Linked DNA regions of Homo sapiens: regions 1 and 2 are each linked to region 3. The links come from fine-mapping of genetic effects on plasma protein levels. A gene starts in region 3. Each other region holds a variant in brackets. All regions are shown on one strand. Distances are between the middles of the regions. Region 1 overlaps ITGB5 (integrin subunit beta 5). Region 2 holds the start of LOC124909422 (a long non-coding RNA gene). Region 3 holds the start of ITGB5 (integrin subunit beta 5).

What was found. A credible set is the group of variants that fine-mapping cannot tell apart. PIP is the posterior inclusion probability: the model's chance that the variant is causal. Protein levels are from antibody-based Olink assays in UK Biobank. Linkage for the fine-mapping came from a reference panel and not from the study's own genotypes, which makes the PIPs less certain.
Region 1: its variant is the best candidate, but not a certain one, in a credible set for the plasma level of the ITGB5 protein (UK Biobank, PIP 0.77). The variant lies in the coding sequence of ITGB5. If it changes the protein, the assay may bind it differently, which can mimic a change of level.
Region 2: its variant is the best candidate, but not a certain one, in a credible set for the plasma level of the ITGB5 protein (UK Biobank, PIP 0.89). The variant lies in the coding sequence of ITGB5. If it changes the protein, the assay may bind it differently, which can mimic a change of level.

The regions. Positions count from the first base shown.
Region 1 is chr3:124,855,678-124,863,195 of GRCh38, reverse strand. ITGB5 (integrin subunit beta 5) reads left to right here. Exons shown (of 15, transcript NM_002213.5): 3 at 3,750-3,954. It also overlaps the pseudogene ENO1P3. Among named protein-coding and RNA genes, the nearest start is that of ITGB5, 28 kb to the left of the region's middle. RefSeq lists an enhancer at 3,851-4,388. The variant G/C (reference allele first, on the strand shown) is at 3,831.
Region 2 is chr3:124,793,828-124,801,345 of GRCh38, reverse strand. It overlaps ITGB5 (integrin subunit beta 5), which reads left to right. Exons shown (of 15, transcript NM_002213.5): 10 at 4,529-4,958. LOC124909422 (a long non-coding RNA gene) reads left to right here and starts at 4,971. Exons shown (of 2, transcript XR_007096043.1): 1 at 4,971-7,425. The variant G/A (reference allele first, on the strand shown) is at 4,739.
Region 3 is chr3:124,882,205-124,889,722 of GRCh38, reverse strand. ITGB5 (integrin subunit beta 5) reads left to right here and starts at 2,358. Exons shown (of 15, transcript NM_002213.5): 1 at 2,358-2,792. The coding sequence starts at 2,723. RefSeq lists enhancers at 98-982, 983-1,865, 3,634-4,518 and silencers at 1,980-2,419, 2,880-2,969, 6,027-6,321.

The DNA.
Region 1 (7,518 bases), 27 kb after region 3:
CTGGGAAAATAATGACAGGACTCGATATATAGGTAAAGATGCCTCAAAGTTGTTGAGCACATCAACAAAACCATATGGCCTGACCTAGATAGCAAGAAAGCGAACTTTGACACTGATGATAGAGATGCCTGGCACTGAGAAGAAATCTAACTTTGGTCCGCGTGGCATATGGTGTGTCCTTTGCTGTCTATAAAGCTGGAGTTGCTGAGAATAGGACTCCCTTTGTACCATCATGTTGCTGACTTGGTCTGTGCTTCCGAAGTCAGTGCAACCCTGCAAGTTGCAGCTTTAATGTGATTAATGGTGGTTTCCACACTGGCAACCAGGTGACAGTGCAGGAGCCCATGATTCTTGTTGTTGGTGCAGCTAACTTTAGGGAAGCCTCGTATGCACTGGAGCTGAGGTTTATCACAACCTCAGCTGAAGAATGTTTTTAAGGAGAAACATGGGAAAACTGCTACCAGTGAAGGGCATGAAGAGGGCTTTGCTCCTAACATCCTAGAGAATAAAGAAGCCCCAGAGCTGCTACAGCATGCACTTGGGAAAGCCAGCGACACTACTAGGGTTGTAATAGGCACTGACCTGTCCGCCTCACAGTTCTTCAGGTCTGGGAAATATGATTTGGACTTTAAGTCTCCTGATGGTCCCAGCAGATACATTTGGCCCTGTACAAGTTCTTCTGCAATGATGGGTAGTATCCATCAAAAATCCCTTTGAGCAGGATGTTGGGAAGCTCAGATGAAGTTCACTGCCAGTGCAAGTATCCCAGCAGTGGGGGGGATCATCTCATTGACCAAACTGAAGGAATTGTGCACCTGCCTCCTGCTTAGGTGAAGCAGGTTGGCTCTGTGCCCTAGTCTATTCCAGAGTGTAAGCTGGTCCAGACCAGTGAGAGAGGTGTCAGGGGTTCTCATTACTCTGAAAAAACTGACCATGCTTCCGTTGCCACCCTGGTGGTGGGGCTGTGCACTGGACTGATCAAAACAGGTGCACCTTGACAAACAGAACTGGGCCAAGTATAGTCAGTTCCTCAGAAGCAGAGGGGCTGGATAGCAAGGCTCAGTTCGCCAGTGAGAAATTCAGAAATTCTCTAGCAGAGTAAGCACTGGGCAGGCAAGCCCCTGAGCTCTTCAAGCTCTGGAAAGCTAATTAGACATCTACTTCAGACAGCTCAAGACAGCAGACCCAAACTGGCAGGGCCCTCAGGTCGTTACCCCTCCTTTTCCAGAACCCTGTGTTTTTCTTCTCACTGCTTCACTAGAACTGCTATATCAGAGCCAAGCTTGACCACCTGGAACCCCATTTAGAAAGTTCTGCTTTTAAATCTAAGGCCAGAGGCCGGGTGCACTGGCTCACGCCTGTAATTCCAGCATTTTGGGAGGCCGAGGCGGGCAGATCATAAGGTCAGGAGATCGAGGCCATCCTGGCCAACATGGTGAAAGCCCGTCTCTACTAAAAATACAAAAATTAGCTGGGCATGGTGGTGCGTGGCTGTAATCCCAGCTACTCGGGAGGCTGAGGCAGGAGAATTGCTTGAACCAGGGAGTCGGAGGTTGCAGTGAGCTGAGATTGCGCCACTGTACTCCAGTCTGGTGACAGAGCAAGACTGTGTCTAAAAAAAAAAAAAAAAATCTAAGGCCAGAATAATATATATATGTGTATCTCTCTGTGTGTGTGTGTGTGTGTGTGTGTGTGTGTGTATATATATATATATGTTTTGTTTTGTTTTTTTAACAAAGTCTCACTGTCGCTCAGGCTGGAGTGCAGTGGCATGGATCATAGCCCACTGCAGCCCGGAGCTCCTGGGCTCGAGCGATCCTCCCGCCTCAGCCTCCTAAAATGCTGGCATGAGCCACCATGGCTGGCTAGAAAACTCATTTTTCTAACCTTGTTGCACAACAAGTGTTTATGGAGCCACTTATACCTTTGATGTAGTCCTGGAGGTTGTTGACAGGCAAGATCCTCGGGGATTTAATGCACAAATAAAAAATCGTTATTAAAAAAAAACAACCCAGAATATAAACAAACATACCGTAGGCTTAGGACAATACATCTGGCTTTACTTATTTAAAAACACTGCAGCGTCTTCTTGACTTCTTGTTCTTTTTTGTGTTTGTTTTTTGTTTTTCTGAGACAGGCTCTTGCTCTGTCGCCCAGGCAGGAGTGCAGTGGCACAATCGCAGTTCACTGCAGCGTTGAACTCCCAGCCCAAATGATCCTCCTGCCTCAAGTCTCTCAAAGTGCTGGGATTACAGGTGTGAGCCACCACACCAGGCTGACTTCTTGATCTTGAATTTTATAAGGATTCTAAAGGGCATTGGGTAGTTCCAGGACATCTGAGACCTTGAGGGAGGGTGCATTCCTCTGATTTTTGTGCCTCTGCCAGCAGTCTGGCTTCTAACAAAGTGGTCAAGGGATGCTGACTCACATGAGGCTTCTGGCAAAGTGTTCCAGAGGGAAGAGGAAGGGACCAGTGTCCTAACTCCTCCAGAAAGACTCATAGGACAGCATTGGCTTCCAGCCTGCCAGAGTGGGGGGAATCTTGTTTTTCACATTCACCAGGGAAAAGGTGAAACCCCTTTGCCGGAAATGACCAGGGAGGCTTCATGATTTATAATAAAGTATATTGTTTCATTTTAAAGTTAATACCTTAACCTTCTGGTGTCCCAAATGAGGTTGAGTTGTTCTGATGTCCAGCTTTCTCCCAAACCCAAAGAAAGATTTTTCTTATCAATGTGTCGTTATCATACAAACAACAAAGATAAAAACAAAAATGTTTTTGTCACTTTACTATAACACCTCATTTAAAATTGTTCTTTCAAATCCTAATAAATACAATTCTATATTTTGGGTTTTTTTTTCCTCCTTAGTGTAAATATTTTAAATTTCTTCTTAATTCCCATAATTATTTGTAATGGCTGTCATCTATTGAAGTGATATGCTATGTTATTCTTATGGTTTAAGGATTTAGGTTTGCAAGTTTTAAAGATTATATTATAAGTAATACTGCCGTATATATCACATAGAGTTTCTCCTTTCTCTTTAGATGATTTTCTTGTAATAAGTTTCTTGGAGTAGAGCACTGGGTCAGTGGATATGACCTGTACTGCCACATTGTTCTCCTGAATGATTATCCAGCATCCAATGCCTGTGAAAGATGATAAGTGAACAACTTAAAGGTTAACTCTTGAATGCCCAAGGGAAGACTTTTCAGCTACTTATATGTCATCTTATTTATTTAACTATATATTATTTCATCTACTTATTTATTTATTTTTAGAGAGGAGGTCTCATTATGTTGCCCAGGCTGGTCTCAAACTCTTGATCTCAAGCGATCCTCCCACCTCAGTCTCCCAAATAGCTGGGATTACAGGCATGAGCCACCATGCCCAGCAATATATAACAACTTTTAAAAAATTTTAGCTATACAACTTCTGATCATTTCTGTTTCTCTTGCTAATCATGTAGGCAGTTAGGAGCATTTTAACCATCAAAATAACAACAAAACCGAACATTTTTATTATGTGTTTACAGTTTACAAAATGCTGTCATGTCCAGCAGCTCAGTTAATCCTTACAATACTTGGTGAAGCATCTGGGATAGGGATTACCATTTCCTCCATTTTCAGACAATGAAAATGGAAAGTAGAGAATTTAAGGTCAACCAGATGGAGACGCAGCCACGACATGCGATGTTTTCGGGAGACACCCTGACCACCTCCTGCTCTCTTCCTCTTTTTCCCTGCCTAGGACTTCGGAAGCCCACGGTCCATCACCTCTCGGTGTGATCTGAGGGCAAACCTTGTCAAAAATGGCTGTGGAGGTGAGATA[G/C]AGAGCCCAGCCAGCAGCTTCCATGTCCTGAGGAGCCTGCCCCTCAGCAGCAAGGGTTCGGGCTCTGCAGGCTGGGACGTCATTCAGATGACACCACAGGAGATTGCCGTGAACCTCCGGCCCGGTGAGTTGCCCACAGAAAGGGCTGGATGCTCTGGGATCAGGAAGGCCCATGGGGGAGGTGGGACTTGTTAATAATGGGACAATGAGTCAGGCCAGGCTGAGATCAGAGCCACGAGATGGTGATGGGGAGGCAAGGCTCAGACCTCAGGAAGCAGAGTATATTCTTATTGATGTGTCTGTGGACAGGCTCCTGTGGACAGAGGAAGATCTTTGCTATTTTTAAACAATTGTGGTGAAATATACATAACATTTACCATTTAAGCGTTTTCAAGTGTACAGTTCAGCAGCATTAAATTCACAATATTGTATAAACATCAGCAGTATCTATTTCCGGAACATTTTCGTCGTCCTAAACAGAAAATCTATACCCATTAAACATTAACTCCTCATTCTCTCTTTCCCTTGGTTCCTGGTAACCAGCATTCTACTTTATTTTTTATTTTTCATTTATTTTTGTTTTTAAATTTTGTTTAAATCAGGGAGCAACTGATGGCAGAAATTACAGTCATTCAGGGTGTAGTGGCTGCCTACTCTACTTTCCGACTCTGAACTTGACTAGTCCAGATACCTACCATAAGTGGAATCATCCAATATTTGTCCTTTGAAGTTTGACTTGTTTCACTAAGTGTAATGTTTTCAAGTTTCACACATATTTTGGCATGTGTCAGCACTTCATTCCTTTTTTGGCTGAGTAATATTTCATTGTATGGGTGTATCACATTTTGTTTATTCATTTGTCAGTGAACATTTAGGTTGTCTTCAACTTTTGGCTCTTGTGAATAATGCTGTGGTTTATTCTAGGAGGATGCTGGTAGATTTACTCCTTAGTGAATGCAAGTTGCTCAGGAAACACGCCACTTTTAGGAAAAAGTGTTTTTTCCTGTCAGCAAATTCCATTTGAGTCTGTAGCATTCTGCAAGGACAAACTTTTAGAGTGGAGATATTTTGTTTTGTGACCATGGGGCCCTGCAAGCCTTAGAGTTGCTTAATATAAGGAAACGGTAATATAATTACTTATAATGTAATATAAAGAAACAGTTTTGCACACCTACTATGTGCTAAACACTTGACCTAACTTTAAGGTAGCTATCTTTTTTTTTTTTTTTTTTGAGATGGGGTATCGCTCTGTCACCCAGGCTGGAGTGCAATGGCACAGTCTTGGCTCATTGCAACCTTCACCTCCCGGGTTCAAGAGATTCTCCTGCCTCAGCCTCCCTAATAGCTGGATGTGTACCACCACGCCCAGCTAATTTTTTTGTGTGTGTGTTTTTAGTAGAGATGGGGTTTCACCATGTTGGCCAGGCTGGCCTTGAACTCCTGACCTCAGGTGATCTACCTTCCTCGGCCTCCCAAAGTGCTGGGGTTACAGGCGTGAACCACCATGCCTGGCCAGGTAGCTCTCATTTTACACACAAGGAAACAACCTGCTCAAGGTCTCTCAGTAAGTGGTGAATCGATTCAGCCCCAGGTCTTGGTAACCACAAACCCATGGCTGTTTCTAGTTCACCACTTTTATCATTGAATATTCTGCATATTAGAAGCCTTGCAATGTCAAAGGGTTAGATGTGCATGTGGCTAAATTGGAAAGTATTACGCTATTGGGAAGGGGCAGATTTTTTCACATTTTACTGATTTTTTGCTGTTTTCTTCTATCCCATGGTCTAGGAAACCATTGGCAGTAGCTATTTGTAGATGGTTTATTTAGACTCCAGGGAAGCTTGTAGCAGTGGAAAGATCATGGATCTGGCTGGCTCTCTTGGGTTCTAGCTCTGGCTCTGTCCCTAGCTTGGAGGCCCTGGGCAAGTTACTCCATCTCTCAGCATCTTAGGGTCTTTGTCACCTTTGTTCCTCATGGGCATGTTCAGAGGCTTAAATGGACTTTTTGTATCAGTGAACTTTTCAAAGTTAAAATTTTTATTATTTTCAAAGAGCAGTGGCCGAGGGTACCAGATGGAGGTTTGACCAGGGATGCTCAGTGCCTTGGAAATGGATTAACACAGTGCTGCATGTGGTAAGCACTCAGTAAAGCTCGTTGTTGTTGCTGTGGTTATCATTGTATGGTCTGCACCAAGAGTTTTTAAAGAAAGCTCCAAGTCATCATATAGTTGAGAAATGTTTTATTTTGTCTATTTTAATTGTCTTGAAAATAAGAAACAAAAGAAGAGTGTAAGTTGGCCCTGCTGGATAGAGAAGCTTAAACTATTGGGTTGCCTGCCCAGGAATCAGTGTTGAGATTAATTGAAGTTAGGATTTTTGCAAACCTTCTCACTGTAAGCAACACTCAGCCTTTTTGTTTAGTGAGATACTGAATTGAGAGAGAAAAGGAAGGGAACTCTTACAGAGCTGTGTGAGTGGGTAGAAAAAAGTCAGCTGAGCACTTATGTGGGCAGATGGTTGGTAATGTCCTCTGGGGAAAGAGAAATCTCTTATGTGAAGACAGACTCAGGGTCCAGGGTTTGGACCGAAAGGGATATAGGAGTTGTTATAGACCCTTAATATGTTGGAACATCGTGTTGTATAAGAATAGTGTATTTTCTTTTTTATCATAGTAACAGTATAGCAATAACACATGAAATTCTAGAAAAATAATCCACTTTAACATAAAATTATTTTTCATTTTTACTATGTCCTCTGTATTATTCACCTTTTTGTATTTTTCATATACTTATCATAATGTATGTATAATCGTGCTATTTTCATTCAATAATCTTTGAAAATTAGGAAAAAAATTCACACCTCCAAAAGAGTTTGTAGTTTCAGAGCCATTGTGGAGGAAGGTTTTAATTTACATTTTCTGAACTCCTCATCTAGAATAGCTCTCAAAGCCTGTGGTGTTCTCTCCAAGAAGTATCCTTTATGGTGGCAAGTCTCTCTTCTTCAGGATAGACTTAACTTAGACAAGAGTTGCATCACACAAATCCAAAGATGTCCACACTTTAATAATTCCAGTTTTTAAAATGAGAATTAAGGTGTGAGTGTGAGCAGAGATGGTTGTCTGGTTTGACTATCAACTGGCTTTTACAGCAGTTCCTGTAGAAGAGTTAGAGAGTTAGAGAAGGCCGGGTGTGGTGGCTTATGCCTGTAATCTCAGTGGTTTGGGAGGCCAAGGAGAGAGGATCGATTGAGGTCAGAAATCTGAGACCAGCCTGGGCAACATAGTGAGACCCCGTTGCTATGGGGGAGACTGAGGTGGAAGGATCCCTTGAACCCAGGAGTTTGAGGCTCCAGTCTAGATGAAGATGAGACTCTAAAAAACAAAAACAACAACAACAACAAGAACCCAAAATAAAAAATAAGTGATTTGAGTAACGGCAGGTTTGCATACAATCCGTATTTATGCATAAAACTCAATATATGCTCAGTTAAGGAAGAAAATCATTCTTATTTGGTATAGTTACATCTCCTGCTAAGCATTATGATATGATTTCTGGTATTAGAAATAAAATGGAAACCGTGATCCTATGTTGATACAAAACCACAGTGTGGATGCTGTGTAGCTCTGTCTTGCGGAAGGTGTCGTGGTGGAGAGCCCAGTGCTGGTGGTGTCAAGCAGTTGGAGGAGCTG
Region 2 (7,518 bases), 88 kb after region 3:
CAGTGAGATTCTCTTTCCCAGTGATTTCAATTGTTTCCCTAATTTTCCTCCCTTTATCCTACACCAACCATCGGGAGTCAGTTTACTCAGGAACTGGCTTCAACAAATCAGTATGCAAGTGGCTGGCTGTGAGGCTAGCACAGACGCCCAGCACAAAGCAGCCAGTGAACCCCGTCATGGGCTTCCCACAGCACCCCCTCCCCGCTCCCGTCCACTCCTCGGGACTCTGTAGCCTGTGCCCATCCCAGCTCCTTTTTTGTTGAGATCTGAGCAGACTTGGCATCTGCATAGGATAGCCCTGGATTTGGTGGGTTCAGGGTGGGGGCTGGGCAGCCCTTTTGAAAGGGTGCATCAGGCCAGTCAGCTCCACAGGGGAACCAGGAGAATCCCAATGAAGTTCTAATAACAAGACCGAGTGGGAGGGCTGCTGTGTCTGTGACCTTCCTCTGGAATCTCAGAGCGAATGAATGGAAAGTGTCCAGGAACTGGGGAGCCTTCAGTATCAGTTGAAGTTCTCAGGAATCAGGGGAGGGACTCGAAGAGGCCTCATTCCAGCTGCCTTCCAGCCTTTCTGGATTCTTTCCAAATCCAGTAGGGAAAATGGACCCTCTGAAAGGAGGGGTAAGCAAACAGATTTCCTTGCTGGTCCTGAAGTGCTTTTTATAGCACTTCCCGTGCCCAGCAGGAGCTGAGACCCAGTGGCTGAAATAGACAGAACATTCTCTGGTTATCAGGCATCTGGCTACACTCCAGGCTGCACAGGGCCAGACAGATAGCACCTCACTTGGACCGAAGGCTTGGCTGGGGAAGGCCTCAGGACCTGCTTGAAAGCTGGGCCCTCCTTGCTTGCCCAGCTGGGCAGACAGTGCCCAAGTGTTTCTACATGCTGGTGATTGAGTGCCAGAACTTTAGGGGTGCCCTAACCTCCCACTTTCTCCCAGACACATCAGCAAGATTCTGGAGACTTAACTCTCACTTTCATTGCTTTAACCCCAAGGCAGGCAAGTTTCCATGAGACAAGGTTATACTCACAGGTGTGTACTCCCCACAGTCTTTCAATAATTAAATGCCTTTGGCTCTTGGTCCAGGTCATTCCTCTGTAGTTTATTCAGTTTCTGACCCGCAGATGCCTCTGTGGAGCACAAGTCCAGCAAGTTGTAGCCCTAGAAGTACAGGGTTTCAGCTGTAACTTGAAGCAAGCTACAGGTAGCTTCAAGCATGTCACTGTTGTGGGAGCTTCAAGCAAATAGTAATAGGAGATGCAAGCAAGTTTCTCTCTGGGCCTCAGAAGGGAGGGATGGCATCTGCCCCTCAAAGCTCCATTCACCTCTGCATTCTTGATGGCCCCACGGGTGGCTTCGGGCAGGCATAGTCCCCACTCTTATCCTATCTGCAGGCTCAAATCGTTCCCAGCCCACGGCAGAAAGATGTGGAGATGCCTCTGGCCACCACTTTGGGGATCACCATCAAGGGGTCCCTTTAGTAAGCCAGGCTGGCTCTCCCTGCGCACCCCGATGAGGTAGACCTCATTCCCCCGTCTAGGAGGTGGATATGCTAAGGAGAGCGCGGGCCCTGCTCTAGGCCTGGCCCCACTCATCAGCTGTGTGAGCATGACTAAATCCACCAACCCCGCCAACCCTGTTTTCTCTCTGGTAAAATGAGGACACTTCCTTCTAGGGCATTTAAAAGAGATGCTTGTGGAAAAGTCCAGCACAGTGCCTGGTACATAGTAGGCACTTGGCAACTAATAATTATTAGTGTTTTGTTTTGCTTTTTTTTTCTTTTTGAGACAAGATCTCACTCTGTCGTCCAGGCTGGAGTGCAGTGACACGATCACGGCTCACTGCAACCTCCCCCTCCCGGGCTCAAGCCATCCTCCCACCTCAGCCTTCTGAGTAGCTGGGACCACTGGCATGTGCCAAAATGCCCGGCTAATTTTTTGTACTTTTGGTAGAGATGGGGTTTTGCCATGTTGTCCAGGTTGGTCTCGAACTCCTGGCCTCAAGTGATCCTCCCAGTCTGCCCACCTCAGCCTCCCAAAGGGCTGGAATTACAGGTGTGAGCCACTACGCCCATCCTATTCGTGTTATCCTTTAACCAATTTCAGTGTCCAAGTGGATTGAATCTTTACTCACCTTGAGAGACTCCCTGTACCTCGAGACCTTGGAACTTAGCCTTGGAGTTGTTTTTGTCAATCTCTCCCCTTTGTCTCTTCCTACTCTTCCTACCCCACAGAGATGGAAGGTAAGGTGGAGCTAGCCCAAGCTGTCTGCAGCTGGCCTGGTCCCCCGAGTGTCTTCTGATCCTGCTCCCCTAGCTATCCTCAGCTCACCTATCCAGAAGCCTCTCCTGTTGAGCCTCTTGGCTAATGCTGAGTCCTGGGTGTCTGTTGTCAAGTCCTTTGAAACAGCAGTTTGCTGCCACGCAGGACTTTCTGCAGGACTTATAGAGCAGGATCTATCCTCCTGCTCAGTCCCATACCCTCTCCCCTCTCCCCGTGTCCCTAGATGTCACAGCATCTGAGGGGAGGCCTTTTAGAACCAGTAAAAATCTCAAAGTAATAGGGATCTGTATGTTTAGAAACAGATATTTATAATGTTCTCAAAAAATGAACATCGTGGGCCGGGCGCAGTGGCTCACGCCTGTAATCCCAACATTTTGGGAAGCCAAGGCGGGTGGATCACTTCAGGTCAGCAGTTTGAGACCAGCCTGGCCAACACAGTGAAACCCCATCTCCGTCTCTACCAAAACTACAAAAATTAGCCAGGCATGGTGACAGGCACCTGTAATCCCAGCTATTTGAGAGGCTGAGATGGGAAAATCGCTTGCACCTGGGAGGCAGAGGCTGCAGTGAGCCGAGATGGTGCCACTGCACTCCAGCCTGGGTGACAGAGAGACTCTGTCTCAAACAACAACAACAACAACAAAAACATTGTTACCTGAAGATTGTCCAGTAAATCAAGTGAATGATGACATTTTAAAAATTAGCTTTAATGACTGGGCGCAGTAGCTCACACCTGTAATCCCAGCACTTTGGGAGGCCGAAGTGGGCAGATCACGAGGTCAGGAGATGGAGACCATCCTGGCCAACATGGTGAAACCCCATCTCTACTAAAAATACAAAAATTAGCTGCGTGTGGTGGCGCGCACCTGTAATCCCAGCTACTCTGGAGGCTGAGGCAGGAGAATGGCTTGAACCCGGGAGGTGGAGATTGCAGTGAGCTGAGTGCATGCCACCGCACTCCAGCCTGGCAACAGAGCGAGACTCCACCTCAAAAAAAAAAAAAAAAGCTTTATTCTAGCCGAAAGAATAGAATTAAGAATAGTAATAGCTGAAAGTGGTTTTTAACCCATTCTGAGCTTCAGAATGATCTGAGGAGCCTTTTGAAAAATAAAGACATTTGGACCCAGATCCAGTGAGTCTGTTTGTGGGGTGGGCCGGGCCTCTGTCTGTTCAGGGAGTAAGGGAGAACCCACCCCTGAGTAAAACTTTACAACGGCATTTCATCAGGGCACACTGGCCACCTGTCTGTGCGTTTTCATAGAATCCACAGTGACTTGCTCTCAGGGCCCTGATGGGTGATTCAGACCCCACATGGCTCTCCTCAGGGGGGTGAGGAGGAGAGGGTGGGGGAGTCAGGCTCTAGTTCCTGAATCAGACCAAGCCTCATTCTTGCTTTCCTTCCATCCCAGCCCTGTGGGCAGCTGACAGGCATCCCTCCCGCACCATCTGCCACCCATCCAGGCCCACCTTGAGCCTGTTTTCAAGGCAATCTGTGAGAAGCTCCTGAGTGAGAAACACTTCCTTACATATTCTGTTTAAAAAGAAAAGGTCTGTCCATGTGCATGGTGCATTTCATCAGTTGGAGACTCTTCTTTAAGACCTCAGGGGCATGGGGGGATTGTGAAAGATGCAGCTATGACAAGCACTCACAGAGGAGGAATTGGGGCACGGGGGACTCGGGGGTGTCTGGAGAGCAAGCTCTGGAGTCAGCTGAGCCCTTTGCCAGCAGGCACAGAGCCCTCTCTATGGCGGGCCAGGTGGGTGCCCTTCACCCGGCACCCTGTGAGAGTGCCATTGTGCCTGGCACAGAGGCAGCGCCCAGGAAATGTTTTTCCACCAAATGACTTTTTAAGTGAGCAGAGAAGAGGCATCTGCAGCGGGGCTGGGAAGAGGATAGGACAGAAGAGAAAAGAAAGGGAGAATAAGAACTGTGTGAACTCAAGGAAGCCCTATAGCTTTCCGCAGGGGCCCATTTCCTCAGGGTCATGGGGATGCAAAGAGATAATGAATGTTAAAGAATTCACCTGTCAAATGTGAGCTCACCTGTGCATTCTCTTCTCCATGAAGCATGGGAGCTTGCTGGTTCTGAGGTCTCTTCCTACTCCGGCCATCTTGGTGGTTCTACCTGAGTGCGTGGAGAGGGCTGGAGTTCGCAGCTGCTCTTCATCAAGGGCCCTGCCCCTGGGTGAATGGGAGACCCTGGCTTGCCGCAGCCATGATATCCCTTCTCTTCCTTCTGCCCAGGCATCTTTTGAAGTATCATTGGAGGCCCGAAGCTGTCCCAGCAGACACACGGAGCATGTGTTTGCCCTGCGGCCGGTGGGATTCCGGGACAGCCTGGAGGTGGGGGTCACCTACAACTGCACGTGCGGCTGCAGCGTGGGGCTGGAACCCAACAGCGCCAGGTGCAACGGGAGCGGGACCTATGTCTGCGGCCTGTGTGAGTGCAGCCCC[G/A]GCTACCTGGGCACCAGGTGCGAGTGCCAGGATGGGGAGAACCAGAGCGTGTACCAGAACCTGTGCCGGGAGGCAGAGGGCAAGCCACTGTGCAGCGGGCGTGGGGACTGCAGCTGCAACCAGTGCTCCTGCTTCGAGAGCGAGTTTGGCAAGATCTATGGGCCTTTCTGTGAGTGCGACAACTTCTCCTGTGCCAGGAACAAGGGAGTCCTCTGCTCAGGTAAGTGTCCCCAGCAAGCACTTTAGCTCTGAGCCAGGCCAAGATGCCGTTAGGACACCCTCCCAAAGCCTGCCTTTTACTCAGTGGTGGTAGAAAGTGTCACTACCATGGCTCTCCTTGGAGAAGACAGTGGGCAAGCCTTGCTACCCGTAGGCAGGAGGTGGGGATCTGTGTGCAGAATACGAAAGCAGAAGGTATTGCCATAAATTGTGGACTCTCAGAATTCGAGGGGCCTGCGTGGGTCATCCACCTTACTTCCCAATTCATGCAGGACTGGCCTGCACAGCATTCCTGACAGGTAGAGATGTTCAGCCTCTTCTTGATTGCCTCCTGGGACGGGGAACTCACTGGGGCTGGCAGTGGCCATCTGTCCCTTAGCCAATGAACTCATATCTTATTGCTGCTCCCATAACTCACCACAAACCTGTTGGCTTAAAATAATACACATTTAATCCATTACAGTTCTGGAGGCCAGAAGTCTGAAATGGATCTTATTTGGCTAGAATCAAGGTGCCAGCAGGGCTGCATACCTCCTAGAAGCTCCAGGGGAGAATCTGTGTCCCGGCCTTTTCCAGTTCCTAGAGGCCACCTGTATTCTTTGGCTTGCAGCTCCTTCTTCCATTTTCAAAACCAGCAGAGTAACATCCTCAGATCTCTCTGACTCTGACCTCTGCTTCTGTTGTCAAATCCTTCTCCCTCTCCTACAGACCCTTGTGGTTACAAGGGACCCTCAGTCGAACCCTGGAAAGTCTCCCCATCCCCAGGTCCTCAGCTTACTCACATCTGCACAGTCCCTTTCACCACGTAAGGCCACACAGTCACAGGTTCCAGGGATTAGGATGTGGACATCTCTGGGGGCTCTTATTTTTCCTGCCAGAATTCCTCTTTTTTTTTTTTCTGAGATGGAGTCTCACTCTGTTGCCCAGGCTGGAGTGCAATGGCAGGATCTCGACTCACTGCAACCTCTGCCTCCCAGGTTCAAGCAATTCTCCTGCCTCAGACTCCCGAGTAGCTGGGATTATAGGCGCCCGCCACCACACTCGGCTAATTTTTGTATTTTTAGTAGAGACGGGGTTTCACCATGTTGGCCAGGCTGGTCTTGAACTCGTGATCTCAAGTGATCCATCCACAGCCTCCCAAAGTACTGGGATTATAGACGTGAGCCACTGTGCCCGGCCCAGAATTCCTCTTTATACTGAAGAGAAACTTGTTTCTCAATAACTTCCTCCCAATGGTTAACATTCTAGAGTCCCCCTTCCACGTGACAACCTGTCAAACATCTAAAAGCTGCTTTATGTTTCTCTGTTCTCTCTTCTGATCTAGGCTAGACACCCCAAGTCTCTTCCTTGTCCGAGGGTGCTATCATTTGTGAAGCATGCTTCACATAATCAAGTGCGTTACTTGTCATGCTGGATGATGAGGGCTTGGTCCAGGGTTCAGTGAAGCATGCGTTTCCTGTGATTTGGACATTCTGCTTACATGGATGCACCCTGACAATACATTCACCTTTTTTTATTTTCTTCTTCTTCTTCTCCTTCTCCTCCTCCTTCTCCTCCCTTCTCCCTTCCTCTCTCTCTCTCTTTCTTTCTTGTTTCTTTTTTTTTTTGAGATGAAGTCTCGCTCTGTTGCCTAGGCTGGAGTGCAGTGGCACAATCTCAGCTCACTGCAACCTGTGCCTCCTGGGTTCAAGTGATTCTCCTGTCTCAGCCTCCTGACTGGCTGGGATTACAAGCACCCACCACCACGCCTGGCAAATTTTTTTTTTTTTAAATAGATATGGGGTTTCCCCATGTTGGCCAGGCTGGTCTCGAAGTCCTGACCTCAGGTGATCCACCCACCTCAGCCTCCCAATGTGCTGGGATTACAGGTGTGAGCCACTGCGCCCAGCCCACCTTTTCGTTCTGTTAAACAGTCACAGTATACTCTTGAGCTGGTTTTTAACTTCACTACCAAAAGTTTGAGGCTTTTAATTTATTTTATTTTTTAGAACTGTGGTTCAGAAGGAGAGGTACTTTTTTAGTGTGTTGTGTTGGAGCCCTTAATTTTCTGAATCTAAACACAGGAGTTTACACTGATTCCAGTTAAATGACAAGTTGGCAGTTCCCACTCTGGTATTGCGTTCTGATTAAATGCTTCAAAATTGTATCTCAAAGTTTATCTAACACCATGCCACCTGTAAAGGTAGTAAGTAAAACAGTTTTAGGCAGGGCTGTGGTTTCTTCTACACATCATGTATTCTGTGGTTTCCAGGGCTCCCTCCTTAAGAATGGTCTTCCAATTGGGATGGGTGGATTTGAAAGGAACTAAGGGATCAGCTGGGAAAGAAAGCACAAGGTGCATCTGAAGCAAACCAGGAACGTGCAGATACTCCGTCCTATGGGAGGAGGAATTGTACTGCCACACAGGGTTGCACAGACGTGGGTTAACAAGGGAAGCTTCCTGGAGCGGACCTTGCCGTGACACAAGCGTGAGTACACCCATGGGCGTCGTGGGACCAGCATGTCTAAAACTGGAGTTGCCCTGGAGAGTGCAGGACTTAGCAGTGTCATTGCAGAGTAAA
Region 3 (7,518 bases):
TAATCACTGCCTCTCAAACTGGCATAAGAGTAGCTCCAAGGCCACTGACCTAAGAGACAGGTAGCTCCAAGATAAACCCAGGACAGCTCCTGTAAAATGTTTAGGGACAAGCGTTTTACATCAAAACAAACATGAGGATATTATAGAATATGTTAACCCCAAATATCTGAGACCAGTCTCAGTCAATTTAGAAAGTTTATTTTGCCAAGGTTAAGGATGTGCCAGTGACGGGAAGTCCTGACAATATGTACCCAAGGTGGTCGGGGTTACAGTGTGCTTTTATACGTTTTAGGGAGACATGAGACATCAATCAATATGTGTAAGACGTACATTGGTTTGGTTTTGTAAGGCAGGACAACTTGAAGTGGGGGCTTCCAGGTTAGAAGCAGATAAGAGACAAAAGGTTGCATTCTTTTGGGTCCTTGATCAGCCTTCCACTGAATACACAATTTAGTCTGGCTCAGTGAATCTGCATTTTTACATAAACAATAGGCCAGAGGGAGCAATCAGGTATTCATTTGTCTCAGGTGAGCCTCAGAGGGATGACTTTGAGTTCTGTCTGTCCTTTGTCCAAAAGGAATTTCCTGTGGGTAAATTGTGAGGGAGGTATGTAGCTTCTTAGCTATCTTAATTAGGCATAAAATGGGAGGCAGGTTTGCCTGACACGGTTCCCAGCTTGATTTTTCTCCTGGCTTAGTGATTTGGGGGCCCTGAGATTTATTTTCCTTTCACAAATACTATAAAGGAGCTTGCTATGGACTGCTGCATCTTTGCCCCCAGGCACACTATATTGTACTTCAAGAAGTTTACTTCCTCAGGCATTGAGGCACCACCTTGTTAGAGTTTGGGAGGAGGCCAAGAAATAAAGGTTAACATCCAAACTCCTTGAGCTGGGCAGTTAGGACAGTTTTCCACTGGGCCCTCCAAGCCATTCTTCCACCAGGTCCCTGGCCTGCAAAGGTGAGACCCCTTTGTTCTTTCCCCCTTACTGCTTCAGTTTTAGCCAAGCCATGCTGCACTTTTGAACGAGGCATCCTAGCTGTCACTTCCTCCAGCAGTTAACCCCTCTGTCCCTCGGTTCCTCAACTGGATAACAGTAGGGTTGTCGGAGGATGAAATGAGTTAATATGGGTAAAGGACTTAGAACAGTGCCTGGCTGGCAGTGTGCTCTCTGTACTTGGTAGGTATTCTATCGTTATTTTCCCCTACCTGAATGTCGCCTCTTCTCTTGCCTATCAACCACTCCACTCTAAACGCACTTGTAGCGAATCCAAGCCCAAGGCATCCTTTCCTGCACCATCTGAGGAAGACCCCACCCCACTCTTTATTGGCTAGTTCAGATCCAGCTTATATGTAAATGATAAGATGAAAGCCTGAGCATATGTTTTTGAGTCTATCAGTTTGATCATGGAAACTGACAGATTATCAGTAAGGACAACGAAATATAGCGGCATATTGGCCAGTCTCAAATCCTTGAAAGGTGCAAAAGTTAAAAAGTGAAAAGTGGGCCGGGCACGGTGGCTCGCACCTGTAATCTCAGCACTTTAGGAGGCAGACACAGGAGGAATGCTTGAGCCCAGGAGTTCAAGACTAACCTGAGCAACACAGCGAGACCCCCATCTCTACAAAACATGTAAAAATTGTCCGGGTGTGGTGGCGCGCGCCTGTAGTCCCAGTTACTCAGGAGGCTAAGGTGGAGGAACCTTTGAGCCCAGGAGGTCCAGGCTGCAGTGAGCCAAGACTGGGCCAGTGCACTCCAGCCTGAGTGAGAGCAAGACGCTGTCTCAAAAAAAAAAAAAAAAGAAAAGAAAAAGAAATGTAGGTTTTACTTGTGCCTCCACGCCCCACCACGCCCTCCCTTGCTCATCCAGAAGTCGCTTTGCGGTTCCACGCGCGGGCGTCTACGTCCCATCTCAGGCCGCCGGCAGTGAGGCTTTGGGAGGATGAGGCGGTACCGGCACGACCCCCGTACCTGCTCTCCCTCTCGCAGTCTAGCAACCGCCTTTGGCCCAAGTAATCTCGGCTCGCCTAATACAGCGTGCCCCGCCCCTTTCCCGTGGCGACGGGCGGCTAAGCAACGGGAGCGGGCTCTACTCAGTGGTTTCGAGCCCCCCACGCCCCAAGTGAGTCGCAAGCGACTTCCACCTGGGCCCGTAGGGCCTCCGCGTCCCGGGCCGGTCCCCGCACAGGGCGGAGCTGGCCCGGCCCGGAGCTCGCCCCGCCCCGCCTCACCGTAAGCTGACCGTGTGGCGGCCGGGCGAGGGCCTGGCAGGGGAGAGAAGGGGAGGAGAAAGGAGAGGAGGAAAGTGGAGCCTGGCGGGCCGGAGGGAGGAAGGGAAGGGGCGGAGGCCAGGGGCAGAGTGTGCCGGCGCGCGGGGGAGTCTCGGCGCTGGGCGCGTCTCGGAGCCCAAGTCGCGGCCGCCGAGCGGAGCCAGCCCCTCCCCTACCCGGAGCAGCCCGCTGGGGCCGTCCCGAGCGGCGACACACTAGGAGTCCCGGCCGGCCAGCCAGGGCAGCCGCGGTCCCGGGACTCGGCCGTGAGTGCTGCGGGACGGATGGTGGCGGCGGGGCGCGGGCCAGCGCGGGCGCCGTGAGCCGGAGCTGCGCGCGGGGCATGCGGCTGCGGCCCCCGGCCCTCGGCCCCCGCGCTCCGGCCCCAGCCCCGGCCGCCGGCCCCCGCGGAGTGCAGCGACCGCGCCGCCGCTGAGGGAGGCGCCCCACCATGCCGCGGGCCCCGGCGCCGCTGTACGCCTGCCTCCTGGGGCTCTGCGCGCTCCTGCCCCGGCTCGCAGGTAAGCCGCGCCGCCCACGGCGCCCAGAGAAACTTTGTCGCACACTCAGCCGCGGGCGGGCGTCTCGGAGGGGCGGGGAGCGCAGGCGGTGCCTGAGGGCGGAGGGCGCCTTCGGGGCACTCCCTGGTGGGCCAGTCGCTGGGGGACAGCCCCGCGGGGCGCTCCCCGCGCGCAGCCCCGCCGGGCTGTCGTGAGTCTCCTGTTCCCTCCCGGGCTGAGGAGGAGCTTCCCTTCCTGTGTAAACAGGCTGGCCGGCCTGCTGACCTAGCCCGCCAGGGCCCGCGCCCAGGGCACGGGGAGGACCGCCGCCAGCCCTGCCTTGGGGCCCGGGCTCTCCGTTGGCGGGCACAAAGCGGTCCTTGTGGCCGGCCGGGAGCGGGCGGGCTGCTGGGGGGATGCCGTCGGTGCCCTGTTCCCGGAGAAGCAAGGGAGTCTCGAAACCCCAGCCAAAGCCCGGGGCCACCTCCACTCCGGAGGGCTCGCCTCCTGGAACAGCGGGTGCACAGGGCCCACAGCGAATCCTGGAGTTCGCTGCGCCTAGGCTAGCCGCCTGCCTTTGAAGATGCAGCCCCCACCCTCCCCGCCCCCCGCCTGCTTCCTCCTCGCCTAGGCCACCGCAAACCCGAGGGGGCACCCGCGTCCCAAACCACAGCCCCACCTGGGACTTCCCTATTAAATTCCTTCTGCCCGACTTTATCCCGCGATTTGCACACGCTCGGAGCCTCACACTCCCCTAACTGTGGAGGATTCTGGAGCAGAGGACAGGGGCTGTGGAGATTGCCTTAGCCCGACGCTGCGGTGGGCTGGCAGCGTTGCAAGGATCCCTCGGTTACCTGCTCTAACTTTTCAGAGTTGGGAGATGATTGGACGTGGTAGTTTGGAGGCCCTCGAGGAAGGATGCACTTGTTTGGGATGCGGATTTTCTCCTTTCTTTTAGGAAATAATAGTGCTCTATTAACTTTCAAGCCGGAGATACTTGATTGCTCTTGTGAGCCAAGTGGTTGCCTGGCTGCCCGAAGGGAGGACTGTTCCCCCACGGTGTCTCATTTACATGAAGGCAGTGGAGGTTTAGGTTTAAGAGCGGAGGAGGGGTCTGAGCAAACAATAACTTCGTTCAGACCCTAATTCAAACTTAATACTGTAGCAAGGTTTTTGGTTTTTGTTTTAAATGGGAAAATAATCACTCCAGAGCTTGGAGAGTAGATGAGTGGATTCCAAACACCCATCCGGCAGCCAGTGCCCATCACGGATATTTTCATGGGTCCCTAGGGAAAGCGAGGAGCAGGAAGATGTAGCCTGCATCACACAGGAATGTATTGTTGTCAACGCTCCCCTGCTCCACAAGGACTTTCCTTTAGTTTGAAATTAGGCACTTTTTCTTTTTTTGGTGGGAACATTTTCTTTTAATACTTCTTAATAATATTAGTAGTTTTTAATTTTGGCAAAATAAGAAAATCTGACAACCCTATGTTAAGCTCCCCTTCTCTTTTTCTGTTTGTTTCTTTTGTTTTGTTTTTAAATCTTAGTTTTCTTTGAAATCCAAAAGTTCAGAAACTGCCAAAGGAGATGGCTTTTAAGTTCCTTTCCAGCTTGACATTCTGTAATTCTGACAAACAGAATTATAATAATAATTTCTAGTTGCAAATAATTTTTTTTTTTTGAGTCAGAGTTTCAGTCTTGTAGCCCAGGCTGGAGTGCAGTGGTGCCATCTCGGCTCACTGCAACCTCCACCTCCCAGGTTCAAGCAATTCTCCTGGCTTAGCCTCCCAAGTAGCAATGATTACAGGCGCTGCGACCATGCCCGGCTAATTTTTGTATTTTTAGTAGAGATGGGGTTTCACCATGTTGGCTGGGCTGGTCTTGAACTCCTCACTTAAGGTGATCTAACTGCCTTGGCCTCCCAAAGTGCTTCAATTACAGGCATGAGCCACCACGCCTGGCTGCGAATAATTTCTAAAAATACATTATTTTCCACTTGCATCTTGCTTTCTCTTTTTCAGAGTTCACGTACATCTTCACGGTGATGTCCATTTTCTCATATGGGCTCAGGAAGGAAGTGACTTGCCCTTCCCCTCTACTTGGGTCAGGAGTGGTGGACCAGGGACCATGGCTTTTGGTCCAGTGCCCTTTGTCCTACCGACTCAGCTTAAGGAAGAGAAAAGCACTGAGCATGGTGGTTCATTTGCAACTCTTTTGGGGTCCTGTTTTCCCATTGCCTATCTTTTCTTTTCTTTTTTTTTGAGACAGAGTCTCACTCTTGTTGCCCAGGATGGTGTACAGTGGCATGATCTCAGCTCACCACAACCTCTGCCTCTCAGGTTCAAGTGATTGTCCTGCTGAGTAACTGGGATTACAGGCATGTACCACCACGCCTGGCTAATTTTGTATTTTTAGTAGAGACAGGGTTTCACCATGTTGGTCAGGCTGGTCTCTAACTCCCAACCTCAGGTGATCCGCCCGCCTCGGCCTCCCAAAATGCTAGGATTACAGGTGTGAGCCACCACGGCTGGCCTCTGCCCATCTCTTTGACTACAGGTTTTGGTGGTGGTGGTGGTGGAGCAAGCCATGGCACTGGCCTCCAGAACTTGCTGCTTACCTCTTAGGGCCCTGAAGCTTCTCAGGATTAGCAGAGGTTGACTCACATCTGTGTCATTTCTCCTAGTTTTTCAGTGTTGCTGAATTAACTTCAACATTCTTTTTTTTTTTCTTTTTTTTTTTTGCTTCCCTTCCCTTCTTTGTTTTCTTGAAGCACTACAGGTACTTTATTCAGGGAGTGTTTCTGTCTTGCCACTAGGAACATTATTTGAAAGAAAAAAACCTAGTTACTCAGAGAAAAGAAAGAGATGACCCTCAGGGCCATGCCTGCCTGGGTGTTCCTGGACCAGTGGTTGAGTGCCTCTCTCTGTTGCTCTAACCCCACTTTCATCTCAGTACGGATTTCCAGCAGGAAACTGACCTTAGGTTTCAGGGGCTCATTTCAAACAAGTCCCTGGCCGGCTGACAACCCCCTCCCGTCCCCACCAAGGGCTATCTCCTGCTCTTTTTATTATCTTATGGCCAAGAGCCTTCAGACAGAATCCTAGGATGTGGTCTTCCCACAAAACCAGGGGTCTCACTGAGGTGAGGCTTTTCCACGCTGCCTTTGCTAAGACAGAGAGAGGAACACCGTCTTATAAAGAGGATCCTGCAACACCGCTGGAATTATGTGTGCTATCACATTCATTTCTTTTTAAAAAAGCAATCGAATGTTCTTCTAGTGAATGCTCTGCACATCCTAAGAAAGCCCTTTGTTTTATTTAGTGGACTCATGTTGGCAGCACCCTTCCTCTACCCCCAACCCCCTACCACATTTCCTGTGGTCTGTGATGGGGTTGTTGGAATTTGGCTGGGTCTGCAGCTCTCTGTAGGTAACCAGGCACAGGTTTAGAGCTGACAGGACAATGAAATACAAACAGTGGGTTTGGTCTGTAGACTGCTGTTTATCCTATGGATTTACATTTTAACTCCATCATCCTTGAGTTGGGGGAGCTTTTTATAAAGGGGATTGAGGCAGAAGAGGGCAGGGTCTAATTAGCTCTAATTAGTATTCCCCGCCTGCTTGTTCTCCATGCTTATTTAGCTACTGAGGCAACGGGGAATTAAAATATCTAAGTAGTTTGGCAAAAGGCCTTTTGTGCCTGCGTGGCCTGGTAACTACTTTTTCTTATTCAGCCTGGCCATGGAAATATTCTGAGATGCTTTAACGATATCAGTAATGTGGGACAATTACAAACTACTTAAATAATAGGGCCCCTTTCACATGGCAGTGTGCAGCTGGGTTAATGGGATAGGGTCTCTTTTCACAGGTATTTCCAGTTGGCTGGAGCCGAGGGCCTTGGAGAACTGACTGCCGTGGTTTGTTTTCCTTCTTTCCGGTTCGAATGGGATTAATGGCCTCTATAAATGTAAAGGAATGCTTTATTTAGAGGCACCCATTTGTTTCTGAGGCTTCTTGCTTCCGTTGAATGCAGGGTTTACTTCCCGGGCCTCATGGTGAAAAGTTTGCTCTAAGACAGGCTTGACTCATCCCCTAAGGCTGATGCTTTGAAGGCACTGCGGGGTACCCTGCCCTCTCTTTATAGGATTCCCTCCCCAACTCCAGCCAGACATTTTCAGAGCTGGTTGTCTCTTGTAGAGCTGGGACCTACTTCTGCAACTTGTTCTCTTTAGTTATTCTCAACTGTCCCTCAGAGTGATCCTGAGATCCAACTCAAGTCAGATCATATCTCTCTGCTTAAAACCTTCGAATGGTTTCCCAGAGTCCTGCCAGGCTCCACGAACTCTCCACCTACTTCTCTGACTTTCCTTCACCACTTTCCCTTCGATCCTTTGCTCCAGCAGCATGGGCCTCCCACTGTCCCTTCAGCGTGCCAGCCATGCTCCCATGGCAGCCCTTCTCCCTGCCTGGAATACTGTCCTCCAAGATATCTGCATGACCGGCTTCCTCCACCCTGCAACCCTTTTTCTAGCATCTCCTGCTCAGCCAAGTTTTCCCTGGCCGCTCCCAGCTAAAGCTGCAACCTCCTCCCTATATCCCGAGTTCTTTTTATCTGCTTTTCTTCTTTAATTTTTGTCCTTAGCACTCACCACCATCTAATGTAACTACATATCTTCTTCACTATTTCCCCTAAGTAGAATTCTCCCCCAGCCAGGATGTGAGCTCCGTGAATAAGGGAGTCTTGTTGGT